Linked DNA regions of Homo sapiens: region 2 is linked to region 1. The links come from fine-mapping of genetic effects on gene expression. Tissue or cell type: skeletal muscle. Region 1 holds a variant in brackets; the other region holds the start of a gene. All regions are shown on one strand. Distances are from middle to middle.

Evidence for each region. PIP is the estimated chance that this variant, and not a neighbour inherited with it, causes the effect.
Region 2: RAB3GAP1 starts here. The variant in region 1 is fine-mapped to the expression of RAB3GAP1 in skeletal muscle (GTEx, PIP 0.93).

Annotation. Positions count from the first base shown.
Region 1 is chr2:135,165,044-135,173,151 of GRCh38, forward strand. It overlaps RAB3GAP1 (RAB3 GTPase activating protein catalytic subunit 1), which reads left to right. Exons shown (of 24, transcript NM_012233.3): 24 at 3,502-5,667. The coding sequence ends at 3,738. Among named protein-coding and RNA genes, the nearest start is that of SNORA40B, 32 kb to the left of the region's middle. The variant C/G (reference allele first, on the strand shown) is at 3,873.
Region 2 is chr2:135,048,626-135,056,722 of GRCh38, forward strand. RAB3GAP1 (RAB3 GTPase activating protein catalytic subunit 1) reads left to right here and starts at 3,667. Exons shown (of 24, transcript NM_012233.3): 1 at 3,667-3,700; 2 at 3,805-3,860. The coding sequence starts at 3,683. RefSeq lists an enhancer at 4,240-4,379.

The DNA of each region.
Region 1 (8,108 bases):
TCAGTTTTACCATCTTTAAACCCCATGTAGGGCAAAGTGGAGTCACAACTCAGCTTGAATTATAAATATAATTGTTCTTGTAATGGTGAGGAGATCTACCTTTGAGGTTTCCTAGAAAAGAAGAGGAAAACTTCAGATTTTTAGGGCTGTGGAAACAGATTTCAGCACAGAAAGAAAGCCCAGTTTGAAAAATTATCATAACCATTACCTCTAGTAGTGAAAGTAAAGATTTTAAAATTATATTGTATCTTGGTTACTGGCTAAGGGCTCTGGCATCCTACAGATAATTCTCAGTTCAGGGCTCATTAATATTAGGGATTCTGATAAAGGCGTTATGTGCACTAATTACACGCTTCCCCTTATATGGCACTGTGATTACACTAGAATGACCCAGTTTTGAGAGTGTAATTTTCAGAAACAAATAAGAAAAAGAATTTCTATGTGTCTACACGTGGAATAACAACTGGATAATCCCTGTAGAGTTGGTCTGGAGTACAACTAGTTAATATATTCAAATTCATAGCCAAATACACTGATAGGAATTCTTAGCAAGAGCTAAAATCTGAGTTTGTTTATGGGGCAGCTCCCTAAACCTCAGAATTTCAAATTAATAACCAAATATTTATTTCCTTATAAATTAGACTTCTAGCAAACAATAGATGCTTGCTTTGATTTATTTTGTTTTTCTCTCTGGCATGAAAACAAGAACCGAGTTTGGTTCCACATCTGATAATATCTATCCAGTTCACTACCCAGAAGCTTACAAGCGCATTTCCTTGTTAGCTACCAATATGAATGTTCCTCATATTGCAAAAATTCTTTCCTCTTTGATCATTTTTAATAAGTGACATGTTGGCTGGGTGCGGTGGCTCACGCCTGTAACTTTGGGAGGCTGAGGTGGGTGGATCACCTGAGGTCAGGAGTTCAAGACCAGCCTGGCCAATGTGGTGAAACCCTTTCTCTACTAAAAATACAAAAATTAGCTGGGCGTGGTGGTGAGCACCTGTAATCTCAGCTACTTGGGAGGCTGAGGCAGGAGAATCACTTGAACCCGAGAGGCAGAGGTTACAGTGAGCTGAGATCATGCCACTGCACTCCGGCCTGGGTGATAAAACTCCATCTCAAAAAAAAAAAAAAAGTTATGTGTTAAGAGGATTTAAAATGTGAAGTATTTATATTTTTAGTCCTGAGATTGTTACTTATTTTAGATAACTAAGCAAAATTATTTTCCCCAAAATAGAAATAACCTCCTTACCCCCTCTACTGACTGCAAGTAAAACTTTGACAATATAGGAACTTTTATATTTATTTATTCATTTTTTAAAGAGAGGGTCTCACTCTGTGGTCCAGGCTGGAGTACAGTGGCAAGATCATAACTCACTGCAGCCTTGAACTCCTAGGTTTAAGCAATCCTCTTGCTTCAACCTCCCAAGAAGCTGGAGCCACAGGCATGCACCACCACGCCCAGTTAATTTTTATATTTTTTGTAGGGACGGGGTCTCACTTTGTTGCCCAGGCTTATCTAGAACTCCTGGTTTCAAGCAATTCTCCTTCCTTAACCTCCCAAAGTGCTGAGATTATAGGTGTGTGTGAGCTATCACACCTGGCCTAGAAAATTATAAGAAAATATTAATCACATAATCTCACTACCCATTGATGATTTAACATCTAGTATATACATATGTATATATAATTTTAAAAGTAGGGTTATATTATATAATTACTTCATTATTCTTGTTTTCCACTTAATATACTTAAGATATCTTTCAAAATCACTAAATACAGGAACATAGTATATCATCTTTCAGTAGCCTCATTGTATAGCTAACCCCCTTAATGGCTACTGAAATTGTACATCCATCTACATTATGTCATTTAAGAAAAGATTTTAAAGTTTTCAGACCTTGTAGTGAATGTTTTTAGGGAATTGGTAGACTGTGTAATACATATAACAAGCATCTGGTTGGTACATTTTTAAACTCAGTTTTAAATGTCTGGCTGAAGTAAACTGTTAGAATTTATTCATGTAACTTTTCATTAGCTGATACTTTATATCAATTTTACTAATTAGTCAAGATTTTAACACATTTTTTTAAAAAGTTGTGATGTAATTTCACTTGGTGTTTTTATAGCTTATAGTAATTCTATATATTTATAACTTTTCTTTAAAATTATAAATAGTAATAAGCCTTATCATGATTATAGGTATCTCTGGTATGTACATACTTAAATGGAATTCAGCAAATAAATGACTGACTGGATTTCGCTTCAGACTTGCTAGATTGAATAACTGTTAGGCACCTATTCCTAAATTCTATTTTTCAAGCCATGAACACTTTTTTTTTTTTTTGCATCATAATTCCCAGTAAAAGAGCTAGGTTTTTGTTGTTCATTTCTCCCATTAAATGACATCATATGTCACCTGTTGAGCCATGGATGCATGAGTAGTAGTAGATGTCTGCTGTAGTTGACAGCTGGGTGTGCTGTGTTTGGTGTGACTTTGTCTTGAATATTCTTTTGATAGGATCATGTTCCATAATGTAGTGCATACTGTCTTTGAAATAATCCTGAACTCCCTTGTCTAGCCCTATTTAAACCATCTTGCTTGTTTCCCTTTCATCACTGTTTCTTTTCTTACCCCTTCTCAAGCTGACTGAATCTTCTGATGAGGTAACAAAATAGCCTTTGCCCCTCATAGTTCCTTGTTCCTTCCCATCCCTCTAATTTCATAAGGTCATTAACACTAACCACCTCTCTCACAGTCTGGATTTGGCTTACCTACCTTGCTGATGTTTAGCGCAACATGATTTCATGTTTCCATTGCCAAAACAATTTTTTTTCCCAAATTGATGGTATTAAAAAAAGTACAGTAATCAGAATTAAAATTGTAGGCTGTAAATGAACATGCATTTTATGTCATTTCAATGAAAAAATAGATGCCTTTAATATTGCGAACTTCTCTTTTGTGGTCATTGCTATATGGGCCTCTATCACTTCGGCATCACATTAGCTGCCCAGCAAGCAAGACCAATGCCCCCACTTTTAATTTGGCAAGTGAACCTTAAAAAGAATCGATTAAAAAATTCTTACCCAGAGTCAAGATGAAAATCATCTTTTCACTCTGGAGAAAAACAGCTCCTTACTGGACTGAGGCTGTCAGACGTAGACTTGGGTCATTGCTGGAAGAAACATAGAAAGCAGCACAGCTCCGAGGTCCTTTTTCATCAGATGTGTAAATATGGCCTTCTCTCTTCAGAGCAGATTGCCTGGCAGTCATCATCCCTCCTGTCTGTCTCCAGCCCGGCTGCTCATGCAGTGTCTCAAGCTTCTTGCATTTGCTGTGTTATGTGGTTTTTGAGTAATCTTAACATATAGCTGACTGCATTACTGAGTAACGTGGGACATTTTCATATCTTTATTATGTTAATTCATCTGTCCTTCAAAAGCATCTGAGTTTAGCATTTGACCTGCTTTTGACTTTAGCATTTGATTCTTTTCCAGGCTGCAGCTATGACTCCACCAGAGGAGGAATTGAAGAGAATGGGCTCCCCAGAGGAAAGAAGGCAGAACTCCGTGTCAGACTTCCCACCCCCTGCTGGCCGGGAATTCATTTTGCGCACCACTGTGCCGCGCCCTGCTCCCTACTCCAAAGCTCTGCCTCAGCGGATGTACAGTGTTCTCACCAAAGAGGACTTTAGACTTGCAGGTGCCTTTTCATCAGATACTTCCTTCTTCTGATTCTTCTAGCATTACTCGTTGGTGGCTTCAGAGACAGTGCTGCCTCCTCCTGAGGGAGGGAAGGTACCAGGGAGAACCTGGGAGGTCCTGGAGAGGGCCCTGTCCAGTTGGGTGATCAGGAATCAAACCAGCAT[C/G]GGAAAGACTTCCCAGCACCAAGCTTGAGCTGTGTCGTTTCGTGGAGGGGGCAGCGAGGATGGGCTTGAGCTGTTGAGAGATTTCTGCCCTAGAGATGGCCTTTGTATATGGGGGGGTGGTGGGGGGACACAAACACATCAGACACTCCGTCCTCACACTGGCAGGACGGTGTTCATCGCATTCTCTTCTGTGACCAGCCTCTAGGCTAGCGGCTGCATTCGTGGTCTGTGCAAACACTTCGTGGTTCTATATATCAGCAGCAAGTGTGCAAAATAAAGGACCTGTTAACTCAGATTTCTGGATATTTTGGTGGTAGCTTCTAGTCCCAGAATCTGTGTTTTTAAAATACTACATGACATTCTGTCTATTCAATCACCTGGTGGTCATCTTTCTTGTACTAATTAACTGTTGATGAGCATTTTGGATATTCTAGGAGAAAGCCTATAATTTCACATAGTTTCTCTTTTTCATGTAACTGTAACCTAAATGTATTACTTCTGATAAAACTATATATCAAATGTCACTGCAAATTAGTTTTATATCTGTCATGTGAGATTTGTCTTACTTATTTTTCTTTTGGTTGCCATGGAAGTTATGGCCCTGAAAATCGTCTCCCTCCCCTTCTCTTGCTGTACAGCATGCGTTCTCTTTTTGTGGTTGCTGGCTGGGTACTGTATTTAATGAAGTAGAGAATAGCACTTGCAAAAATACAGTCTTGGTACCTAGAGACTGTCATGCAGATAGTATAATTTGGTATATGTGCTAATGCATTGAGTAGAGGATTATTTTAACACACTATTTTGCTTTTGTATTTTAGTTAAAATAATCGATGGGGATGTGTAGCCCCCCCGTGTGAGGATGACATCACCACATTTCTAGTTTCATGGAGCTCAAGATGTCTTGTGTCTGTGTGGCTAGATGGCCTCTGCTTGGTAATCTTATTTTTAGGCCTAAAATTCCCACTTAAATCCAAAGTAAAAATGGTTATACTGAAGCATAAACCTTGCCTGTGTAATTTTAAAAAATTAATAGAGCTGTGCAAACCCTGTTATTTTTGTAAAAAAAAAAAAAAATACATATCTATATATAATATGTGTGTGTGTGTGACATATGCACACGTCTCTGTGTATGTGAAGTAGGGGAGGCCCTGGGGGATGACCTCCCAGCCTTTATGATGCTTTTCTCTATGCTGCTGGACTTCATTCTTACTGGTCCACGCAGATGCAGGCGGCCTGAGGCCAGTGCTGTACCAAGTAGAAGACGGTTCCTAAGGACAGAGTTTGTCTGTTTTCTAACAAAGAAAAATTCTACAAAGGAGAGGTTGGGCGTTACAAAGGCATTGTGAATCTAATAAAAGGAAAGTGTCGCTTTCTGTGGCGTTTTCTTTCATTTTCTCCCGCTGAGGCATTTCAGTCTAATTTCATGTGGTTTTGTGCTGTCTCAGCTCTAATGTTTGCAGCCTGCTGAGCCTAACAAGGCAGTGGTCTCAAGAACATTCTTTGTGCCTTTTTAAAGTACTCCATTTTATTTTTATGATAGTTATGTATTTATTTCACAGATATATTTAAGTACCCACTTTGTGTCAGGTACAGTACAAGCAATGAAGATAAAACAGAAACCAAAACACACTCCCTTACAGGGAAAACTGACACCACGTTGCCACAAAATGTTGAGTATAGTCAACTCTGCTGTGTGGATCGGAGGGCCTGCATTTATCCTACAAATAATTGAATGTAATCCTACATTCATGTATTCATTGGCAGTACGGAGTAATAAATGCAGCAATGTCATAAAGTGTTGTAGGAGTTTCTTCACCCAGGCTTTGAGGATCAGGAAAATTACCCCAGAGGGTGTGATTTTGGGATTGAGACCAGAAGCTGAGTAGGCACTGGGGAAAGCATGGGGGGCGTATGGGAAATGGCTTGCAGAGAACCAGGCATTCCTCCAGCCCTGTGTGCAATGAAATCATGATTTTCATTGTGAAGTGCTTTATTTCTCCACCTCTTCAATCTGGTCTCGGCCATGTCTTTCTTTGGTCAACAGACAGAGACTTGACAAGTCCTTGCACATTGGGGCTTGCCCTCCCTTCTTGCCAGGAGCCTTGAAGCCACTGTGAAGAAGGCCACTCTAGGGTGAGAGTTGGGGCAAAAGGTAACTGACAGGAGGGGGCAGAAAGCGTATTACAAGCAGAGGAACGGAATGGGCAAAATCCCAGAAATAAGGGAAAATGTCTATTTGGGGGGCAGCCAACATTTCTATTTGGCTGAAGTGTGGTATCTAGAGTGGGAAGGGGCAAGAAATGAAGATGGTGAGGTGAACTAAGGCAAGACCAAGAAGTTCGGGGGAAGCCGCAGCTACAAGTTAGGGCTTTGCCTTTGGGGCGGTAGTGAGTCACTGAAGGGTTTTGTGCAGGGGAGTGACATGGTGGGTTTTAGAAAGGCCACACTCTGGCAGGAGAGGAGATGCTAAGAAAGTATACAGCTGTCGTATATCTTGAGCTAAACTGTCTGCTCCTTAGAAGAAAGGTGGCAATTACAACTGCAATGTGTTTTTTAATCCACCTGTGTGCCTGAGACCGTGCTCCTAAGAGGTGCACATGCTTGTGAAATGGCCTCTCCAGGGCCCTCCTACCCCCATACATTCCTATACCACTGTAATAATTCAGATTTTTCTTCAAGTTGGGGTATTTTAAAACCCTAAGCATTTATGTTTATATTTCATTCATTAGTCCAGCAAATGTTTATTGAGTACCTGCTATGTGCCAGGTACTGTTCTAGGCATCAGGGAGACAGCAGTGACTAGAACGTGGAAGACCTGGTGCTCAGGAAGCTCACAGTGTGGGACACCAAGTGTCAGCAGTGGGTCTAGGAAGGGAGTCTGTCTTCTAGGAGGTTTGATAAGGGAGGGGCTTACGAGGCAGTGACACTTGGGCAGAGACTGAAGTGAGGAAGCAGTCCTGTATATAGATGACTAGGAGAAGACTGCAGACAGGGATTGGCCAATGAAAAGCCTGAGGCAGGAGTGTACCCGGCACGTGGGAAGCACAGAAGGAAGGCCACTGTGGCTGAAGGGGAGTGAGGGGAAGAGGGGCAGGAAAGAAAGTTGCACACGTGCAAGGGCCAGATGTGTAAAGCTGTAGGAGTTGAGATTTGTTTTCTTGATTAAGAAGGGAAGCCATTGGAGAGTTTGAACCAGGGAATGTCATGATGTGACATTTAAAAATCTCTTTGGGGCTGGGCGCAGTGGCTCGTGCCTGTAATCCCAGCACTTTGGGAGGCCGAGGCGGGCGGATCACATGAGGTCAGGAGTTCGAGACCAGCCTGGCCAACAAGGTGAAACCCCGTCTCTATTAAAAGTTAAAAAAAAAAATTAGCTGGGCATGGTGGTGCACGCCTGTAGTCCCAGCTACTCTGGAGGCTAAGGCAGGAGAATTGCTTGAACCTGGAAGGTGGAGGTTGCAGTGAGCCAAGATCATGCCATTGCACTCCAGCCTGGGCAACAGAGTGAGACTCTGTCTCAAAAAAAAAAAAAAATCCCATTGGCCACTGTGTGGAAAATACACTGCAGAGGCTGGGGTGGAAGTAGTGAAACTAGTGAGACGAGGGGAGGTGAGAGCACTCTGGACTGGTGTGGTAGCCATGGAGGGTAAAAGGGATCAGATTTGATACAGATCTTGAAGGCAGAATGTGCAGAATTTACAAATGGATTCAGTGAGGGTCTGAGAGTCAAGGATGACTTGAAGGTTTGGGACCTGAGTGAATGATGCTGTCATTTACTACGATGGAGAAGACAGGGAAGAGCAAGTTGTGGGGCTGCTGCGAGTGATGAATTTGAGCTTGGGCCATGTTAATTTTTAGAGGTTTATTAGATGGCTGTGGTGGCCAGCCTCCTGCCTCCAACTCACACACCCTGTGAAGTCCCCCAGACCCACACCCATTGTACCAGGGTTAGTCTCTGAACAACAGAACATGGAGGAAGTGTTGGTATGTCACTCCCAAGGTTGGTTATAGGAGCCATTGCAACTTCTATTTTGGTTCGTAAAGAGAGGCCCACATGGTGCGGAATGGAAGGTCCCTGCCAACAGCCACATGAGTAAGCTTGGAAGTGGATCCTCCTGGCCTGCAGGTAACTGCAGCCTCAGGAGGGACCTTGGGCCTGGACCACCAGCTAAGCCACTCCCAGATGACTGACCCTCAGAAACTGTGTAAGATGCTTATTTTTAAACTGCTAAATTT
Region 2 (8,097 bases), 120 kb before region 1:
TTAGGATTTCTGCCAGGTTATCCTAGGGTTCCAGCTTGTCTGCAATCCATGAATCTTTAAATTGGCTTCTCAAAAAGTAATCCTGGCCAGATGTGGTGGCTCACACCTGTAATCCTAGCACTCTGGGAGGTTGAGGTGGGTGGATCACCTTAGGTCAGGAGTTCCAGACCAGCCTGGCCAACATGGTGAAACCCCATCTCTACCAAAAATAAAAAAATTAGGCCAGGCGTGGTGGCTCACACCTGTAATCCCAGCACTTTGGGAGGCTGAGGTGGGTGGATCACGAGGTCAGGAGTTCGAGACCATCTTGGCTAACACGGTGAAACCCCGTCTCTACTGAAAATACAAAAAAAATAACCGGGTGTGGTGGCAGGCGCCTGTAGTCCCAGCTACTCGGGAGGCTGAGTCAGGATAATGGCGTGAACCTGGGAGGCGGAGCTTGCAGTGAGCCGAGATCGCACCACTGCACTCCAGCCTGGGCGACTGAGCAAGACTCCATCTCAAAAAAAAAAATTAGCCGGGTGTGGTGGCTAGTGCCTGTAATCCCAGCTACTCGGGAGGCTGAGGCAGAATTGCTTTGAACCCAGGAGGCGGAGGTTACAGTGAGTCGGGATTGTGCCACTGCACTCCAGCCTGGGTGACAGAGTGAGCAAGACTCCGTTCCCACCCCCCCCAAAAAATGTAATCTTCTGGCTATGCGCAGTGGCTCACGCCTGTAATCCCAGCACTTTGGGAGGCCAAGGTAGGAGGATTGCTTGAGCTTAGTTGTTTGAGACCAGCCTGAGCAACATAGTGAGACCATGTCTCTGCAAAAAATAGAAAAAATTGCTGGACGTGGTGGTGGGCACCTGTAGTTTCAGCTACTCAGGAGTCTGAGGCAGGAGGATTGGTTGAGTCCAAGAGTTTGAGGCTGCAGTGAGCTATGATCATGCCACTTCACTCCAGCCTGGGAAACAGAAAGACATCCTGTCTTTAAACAAAAAAGGAATCCTCCTTTTGTCTCTCATTTTGAGATAGAGTCATTCAAACCATTCTCTTTTTCAAGAAACTCAATGTTTAGAAATAGTGGAGGGATAGGCATACAAAACAAGGACAATATCAGGCTGCCCTAGGGCTGTGTCAAAAGCTCTAAGGAAGCATGGAAGGGGAGTGTCTGACTTCCTGGGTTGAGGGTGGGGGATGTATGTTTGCCTAGGGCTGCTTGAACAAAATGCCACAGACTGGAAGGCTTAAACAACAAAAATTTATTTGCTCACAGGGCTGGGCGCCGTGGTTCACACCTGTAATCCCAGCACTCTGGGAGGCCGAGGAGGGTTGATCACCTGAGGTCAGGAGTTTGAGACCAGTCTGGCCAATAAGGTGAAATGCTGTCTCTACTAAAAATACAAAAATTAGCTGGATGTGGTGGCACATGCCTGTAATCCCAGCTACTCAGAAGGCTGAGGCTGGAAAATTGCTTGAATCTGGCAGGTGAACGTTGCAGTGAGCCAAGATCTCACCACTGCATTCCAGCCTGGGTGACAGAGCAAGACTCCATCTCAAAAAAATATTTTTTTATTTGCTCACAGCTCTGAAGACTAGAAGCCCACGACCAAGGTATCAGCAGGTTGGGTTTCTCCTGAGGCCTCTCTCCTTGGTTTGCAGGTGGCCACCTACTCTCTGTGTCCCCACATGGCCTTTCCTCTGTGTGTGCACATCCCTGGTGTCCTAATCTCTTCTCATAAGGACACTAGTCAGATTGGATTAGGGCCCACTCTAGCGGCCTAATTTTAACTTAATCACCTCTTTAAACACCCTGTCCATAAATACAGTCACATTTTGAGGTACTAGGAGTTAGGGCTTCAACATATGAATTTTGAGTGAGAATCCAATCGATTACCACCAAACTGGTTGCAAATACAAATAAGCTCCTAACAGGGGGCAGAGAAAGTCTTCACAGAAGAGCAAATATCCAAGCTGAAACTTGAAGGACAAATTTTACCAGGTAAACTATAGACACAAGGACATTGCAGATTCTAAACGACAGCATGTCCAGAGGAAAGAGAAAGCACAGGATGTCGAAAACATTGTAGGTGCATGTTAAAAGAGGCTGTCTATTAAAAGAGAGTGGCAGACACAAAAGATGTGCTGCTCAGACCTCCCTTAAAGAAAGACTCACTGCCCAGCTGTAAGGCGTGTGGTTAGATGAACAGCCTACGGCTGTTGGGTTTATCAGGTTTGTCTAACTGTTGAGCCAAGGACCTGCTATTCTTGGAGTGCTTCCTCCAGCCAAAAACTGAGCAAACAGTGATAGCCAAGGCCACTGTTTTCTTGGGGAGATCCTGGCCAATGATTGACGGAGCAAGGCAGTAGTACAAGGGGCTACGCATTTCCTGATGCATAATTTTTGCCCTAGCACTTCCAGTTGGACTTCAGAGACTTCGCCAGCTTGGAATTGTAGTGTCTGCTTTTTTAGAGCACCAGTCTGAAAAAAAAATAGTGAAAAAGCAAGCTGCAGAGTGGGAGAAGGTATTTGCTACATATATAAACAATATAAAGCTCAGATGCAGAATATATATAAATAACTTGAAGGTGTTAAAATAAAGACAAGGCCAGGCACAGTGGCTCACACCTGTAATCCCAGCACTTTGGGAGGCCGAGGGGGGCGGATCACAAGGTCAGGAGATCGGGACCATCCTGGCCAACATGGTGAAACCCCATCTCTACCAAAAATACAAAAATTAGCTGGGTGTTGTGGCGCATGCCTGTAATCCCAGCTACTCGGGAGGCTGAGGCATGAGAATCACTTGAACCCAGGAGGCAGAGATTGCAGTGAGCCGAAATCGCGCCACTGCACTCCAGCCTGGCGACAGAACCGAGGTGGGCAGATCATGAGGTCAGGAGATCGAGACCATCCTGGCTAACACGATGAAACCTCATCTCTACTAAAAATACAAAAAATTAGCCGGGCGTGGTGGCGAGCGCCTGTGGTCCCGGCTACTCGGGAGGCTGAGGCAGGAGAATGGCGTGAACCCGGGAGGCGGAGCTTGCAGTGAGCCAAGATCGTGCCACTGCACTCCAGCCTGGGCGACAGAGCAAGACTCCGTCTCAAAAAAAAAAAAAAAAAAAAAAAAAAAAAAAAAAAAATGAAGCGTTTGTTGAACACCATGTTGCTCTTCCCAGAAACCAGGTAACTAGTATGATTTTATTTCAGGACAATCAACTGAGCAACTTCTTGCAGGGTCAGGGGCAGAGGGTAGAAGTGGTATTACAGCACCTAGTTTATTGCCTTACAATCAATAAATAGAGGGTGAATGAAAAGAAACCCAATAGTTAAAGTGTAAGCTAATTGGTACTAACTACAAATATGGGTTGAATGAAAACAAACCCAACATGCTTTAGGTTTTTTAATACAATCTTATCCACATGAGTTTAGGGTCTTGTCCTATCACCTTGGCTTCTGTTCCCTTTCTGTATTCATCACAGGAAATTTTCAAGTTTTATGAAACCAGCTAGAGCGGAGTTTTATTAACCAGCTGAGGGCGGACTAAAGACTTAACAGACCTGGGCGAAGAAGCAGCACTCCTACTTACTAGGGCAAGACTCATGAACAGGGGGCGGGGGCTCCGGGGGCGGGGACGCGCCCCGTTCTCTTTCGCTCTTCTTCCCGGCAGCCTTAGCGCCAGGCCCGGCGCTCCTCAAGATGGCTGCCGACAGTGAGGTGATTTCTTTGCTCCCTACTTAATCCTTGTCACTATCTAAATTCGTTCCTCATGTCTTCGCCTTGGGGCTTAATTTCTTTTTCTCTCCTTCCCCTTCCCGCAGCCCGAATCCGAGGTATTTGAGATCACGGACTTCACCACTGCCTCGGAATGGGAAAGGTGAGTGAATCGCATTTTTGGTTACCAGCTCCCATGGGCCCTGGCGTCCCCTAGCCGCTTCCCTGACCCCAGACACACCACAAGTGACGCCACTTGTGCGGGAACGGTAATACCGTGGGTCCCGGGTCTCCTCCCCCAGTCTTCTTTGGTCAACCGCAAGCCTCTTCCGCGTCTCGCGTCTGGCAACACCCGGCCCGCCCCCGTCAGCCAATCCCTGAGGCTCAGGCTCTCAGAAAGTTTTGTTTTCTCTCCTGTCAGACCGCTTCCCTTAGACTTTGGTTTTCTGGTTGTTACCCACTCGCAAGAAAAATTTCCGAGGCTGCAACAACCGTTCCGGTTTTCATTACCGTTTAACTCATTATCGTAAGCAGTAAACTTGGTAGGTTGTGCCGCACCTCATCCCGTGTACGTTGGTATACCCTTTTCAGGAGGAAGTCTTTCTTCAGAGTATTGGTAGTTGTCCATCTGTCACACTCCCACCATCTCCATGCTGTCTTTAATTTTTTATTTTTATTTATTTTTGGAGACAGAGTCTCAGTCTGTCCGCCCAGGCCGGAGTGCAGTGGCGAGGTCATAGCTTACTGCGGCCTCGAACTCCTAGGCTCAAGTGAAGCTCCCGCTTTAGCCTCGGGAGGAGCTGGGACCACAGGCACGCGCTATTACGCCCAACTAATTTTTTAAAGATCTCGCTGTGTTGCCCAGGCTAGTCTTGAACTCCTGGGCTCAAGCCTGGGCCGCCCAAAGTGCTGAGATTACAGGCGTGAGCCTCCGCCCATCCTGTCTTTTAGAATAACCTTTTTAAAAAGTCTGCATATGGTTTTGGAATGCTTTGATTTAAGTTGTTACATTAAAGTGGGTACTGTGCCCAGGCTTCCTGTGCCTGTCAAATTCAGATGAACAGCTGTCTGGGTGAAACTGTTCTATTACTGAAATTAGTTGAAAGCCAAGTTTGTGGAGGAGTGATAGCTTAGATCGAGAAGGTTTCTGTTAAGTGTCACAGAAACCCTTCAGTTTCCTGGGTGTTGAAGTCAGTGTTTACGCTGTTACAGCATTTTATAATCTTTCTGGTTGGGAGAGGAAATTTGTGGATGTCGTGTCATTAGGTGGCACAGGAAAATATAAAAGGTCCTTGTTGGAATAATAGTTAGACCTGTGGTACCCTTCATAAAAGTGTCAGTAAGACATAACCACACTGGCAAGACTTCATTGAGTAGGTACTGGGTGTCCAGAGCTATATACAAAGGGAAAAGCAGAAACTTGACCCATATATTTTTAAAAAACAACAAACAGCAAATAGTTAAAATGTAAGCCAGTTGGTACTACCTGTAAAAATAATAATTAAAATAATTATTATTTAAATAGGGGTGATATTGTGGACTACAATAGTTGGAGATATTTTCATAGAAAAGATAGGAAATGAGCTGGGCCTTGAAAGTGGGAAGTGGTTGGTTAAACATGAGAATGGACTGACATGGGTAGAGACATAGGTGAGAATGAATCTTTGAAGGGACTGAATGAAGAAATATATCTTCACTAGAGTGAAGACTGTCTATTGAAGGGAAATAAATAAGGTTAACAAGGAAGACGGGATTGGGTTATGGACATCTTCCCAAACTAAATACAGGAATCCAGATTCAGTATTCCTATGACCAGTGATTCTCATACTTTAATGTACATCAGAGTCTTAGATTGCTGGGCCCCATCCTCAGAGTTTCTGATTCTGTAGGTCTGAGGTGGGACTGAAAATTTTGCTTGTGTAACACGGTCTCAGGTAATTCAGATGCTGCTGGTCAGGAGACCACACTTAGAAAGAACCACTGCTTAAGACAATAGTGAGAGACCCTTCGTTTTAGAGTGGCCAGGTGATATGATGAAAGTGGTTTTAGGACATGATGTAGAATAATGGTGGGAGACTTAACTTGATTCATAATTAGGATGGTGATTTGTGGACTGGAATACAAAGGGAACCTAGAAGGGAGGATTGTAACATATTTCAGAGAAGATTTAGGTAATAAACTTGATGATACGTTAAAAGTGGGAAAAATCAAATGTGAACTGTAGTTTTTTGCCTGTAAGAATGAATGTAAGGAAGTGTCAAAGTGAGAAGATTTGAACCTGTTGATTTTGAAATAATTTGATGTCTTGAAGGTAGTTAGAAAAATGTAATTCAAATCTTGGAGGGTGGGGTAGGGAAACATCAGTTTTGAATGGAAAAATGATCACTTTCCCCTAGTTAAAAATATCCTGAAGTGGAATATTAAGTCCTTTAGCTTTGCATATGGAAATAATTATTAACACCGTTATAAGAACTATTGCAAAGTAGAAAATTTGGTTTTTGGCTTTTACACTGTAGTGTGCATTTTACAATTCATGAGAGAAAATGTTAAGACTTTGAAGTCTCAAACCTTGAGTTTAATTTTAAATGAAAGATCTTGTGAGTACAATATGTTATGAACTATATAGATAATTTATTGAGAGAACTGTATAGAAGCCCATAACTCTTTTTATCATTTGTTCATTGACAATATTTATTGAATCCCCATATGTCAAGCACAGTGCACATTACGGATTTAGGGATGTGGTGGTTAGTAAAACAGGTACGGTTTCTGCTTTTACTAAATGTGCAGTCTAGTGCATTACAGACACAAATCAAGTAATACAAGTCTGTAATTATGAGTTTATGTAAGAGCTAGAAAGGGAAAGAAACCTGGTCTTATAAGAGCCTATAACAGAGGGACCTAATATAGAATAAGGAATCAGGAAATGACCCTTCATTTCCTGAGAGCTTTTAAGGAAAAAATTACTTAGTTTTTCTAGTCAAATCTCAATACTTGTAGGATAAAGTCCAAGTCTCTTAGCTAGTACTGATAGAATTCATTATTCATACAATAAGTATTTTAAGACATTCCTGGCCGGGCATGGTGGCTCATGCCTGTAATCCCAGCACTTAGAGAGGCTGAGGCAGGCAGATCACTTGAGCTCAGGAGTTCAAGAGGAGCTGGGGCAGCATGGCGAAACCTTGTCTCTACTAAAAATACAAAAGCTAGCTGGGCATGGTGATGTGCACCTGTAGTCCCAGCTAGTCAGGAGGCTGAGATGGGAGGATTGCTTGAGTCCTGGAGGACAGAACTGCAGTGAGCTGTGATTACACCACTGCATTCCAGCCTGGGTGACAGAGTTGAGACCCTGTCTCAAAAAAAAAAAAAAAAAGACATTTCTTCTTTTACTGTAAAAACTATATTTTAAATAGTTTTCACTATAATAGTAATACCTTATAGTAGAATAAAAAATAAAAATCACCTGTAAACTTAACACCAGGAAATAACTGCTGTTAATTTTTTGACATATTTCCTTTTTTTTTCTTTTTTTGAGACGGAGTCTCGCTCTGTCGCCCAGGCTGGAGTGCAGTGGCGCGATCTCGGCTCACTGCAAGCTCTGCCTCCCAGGTTTACGCCATTCTCCTGCCTCAGCCTCCCAAGTAGCTGGGACTACAGGTGCCCGCCACCACGCCCGGCTAATTTTTTGTATTTTTAGTAGTGGCGGGGTTTCACTGTGTTAGCCAGGATGGTCTCGATCTCCTGACCTCATGATCCGCCCGCCTCGGCCTCCCAAAGTGCTGGGATTACAGGCATGAGCCACCACGCCCGGCCGACATATTTCCTTCTAACGTGTGTTAAAAACTTTTTTGGATCAAATATTAATATTTCTTTTTCTTTTTCTTTTCTTTTTTATTTTGAGACAGAGTCTCACTCTGTTGCCCAGGCTGGGGTGCAGTGGTGCAGTCTTGGCTCACTGCAACCTCTGCCACCTGGGTTCAACCAATTCTCCTGCATCAGCCTCCTGAGTAGCTGGGATTACAGGTGCCTGCCACCGCGCCTGGCTAATTTTTGTTGTATTTTCAGTAGAGACGGGGTTTCACCATCTTGGACAAACTGGTCTTGAACTCCTGACCTCGTGATCCACCCGCCTCAGCTCCCAAAGTGCTGGGATTACACGCGTGAGCCGCTGTGCCTGGCCTTTGTATATTTTCTTTTGATTGACATGATTTTTATTGGGTGCATATTAGTCCTCTGAGTGGATTAATTTACAAGTATTTCCTGCAGTTGGGCATTAAGGTAACTTCCAGTTTTTTTAGCTTCGTAAATATAGTATACATTTCATGCAAATTTTTGCTTGCCTGTGGATATATTAAATTTTTCCTCTTTGGTAAACATGTAAACTTGTTTCTAGAGCACTG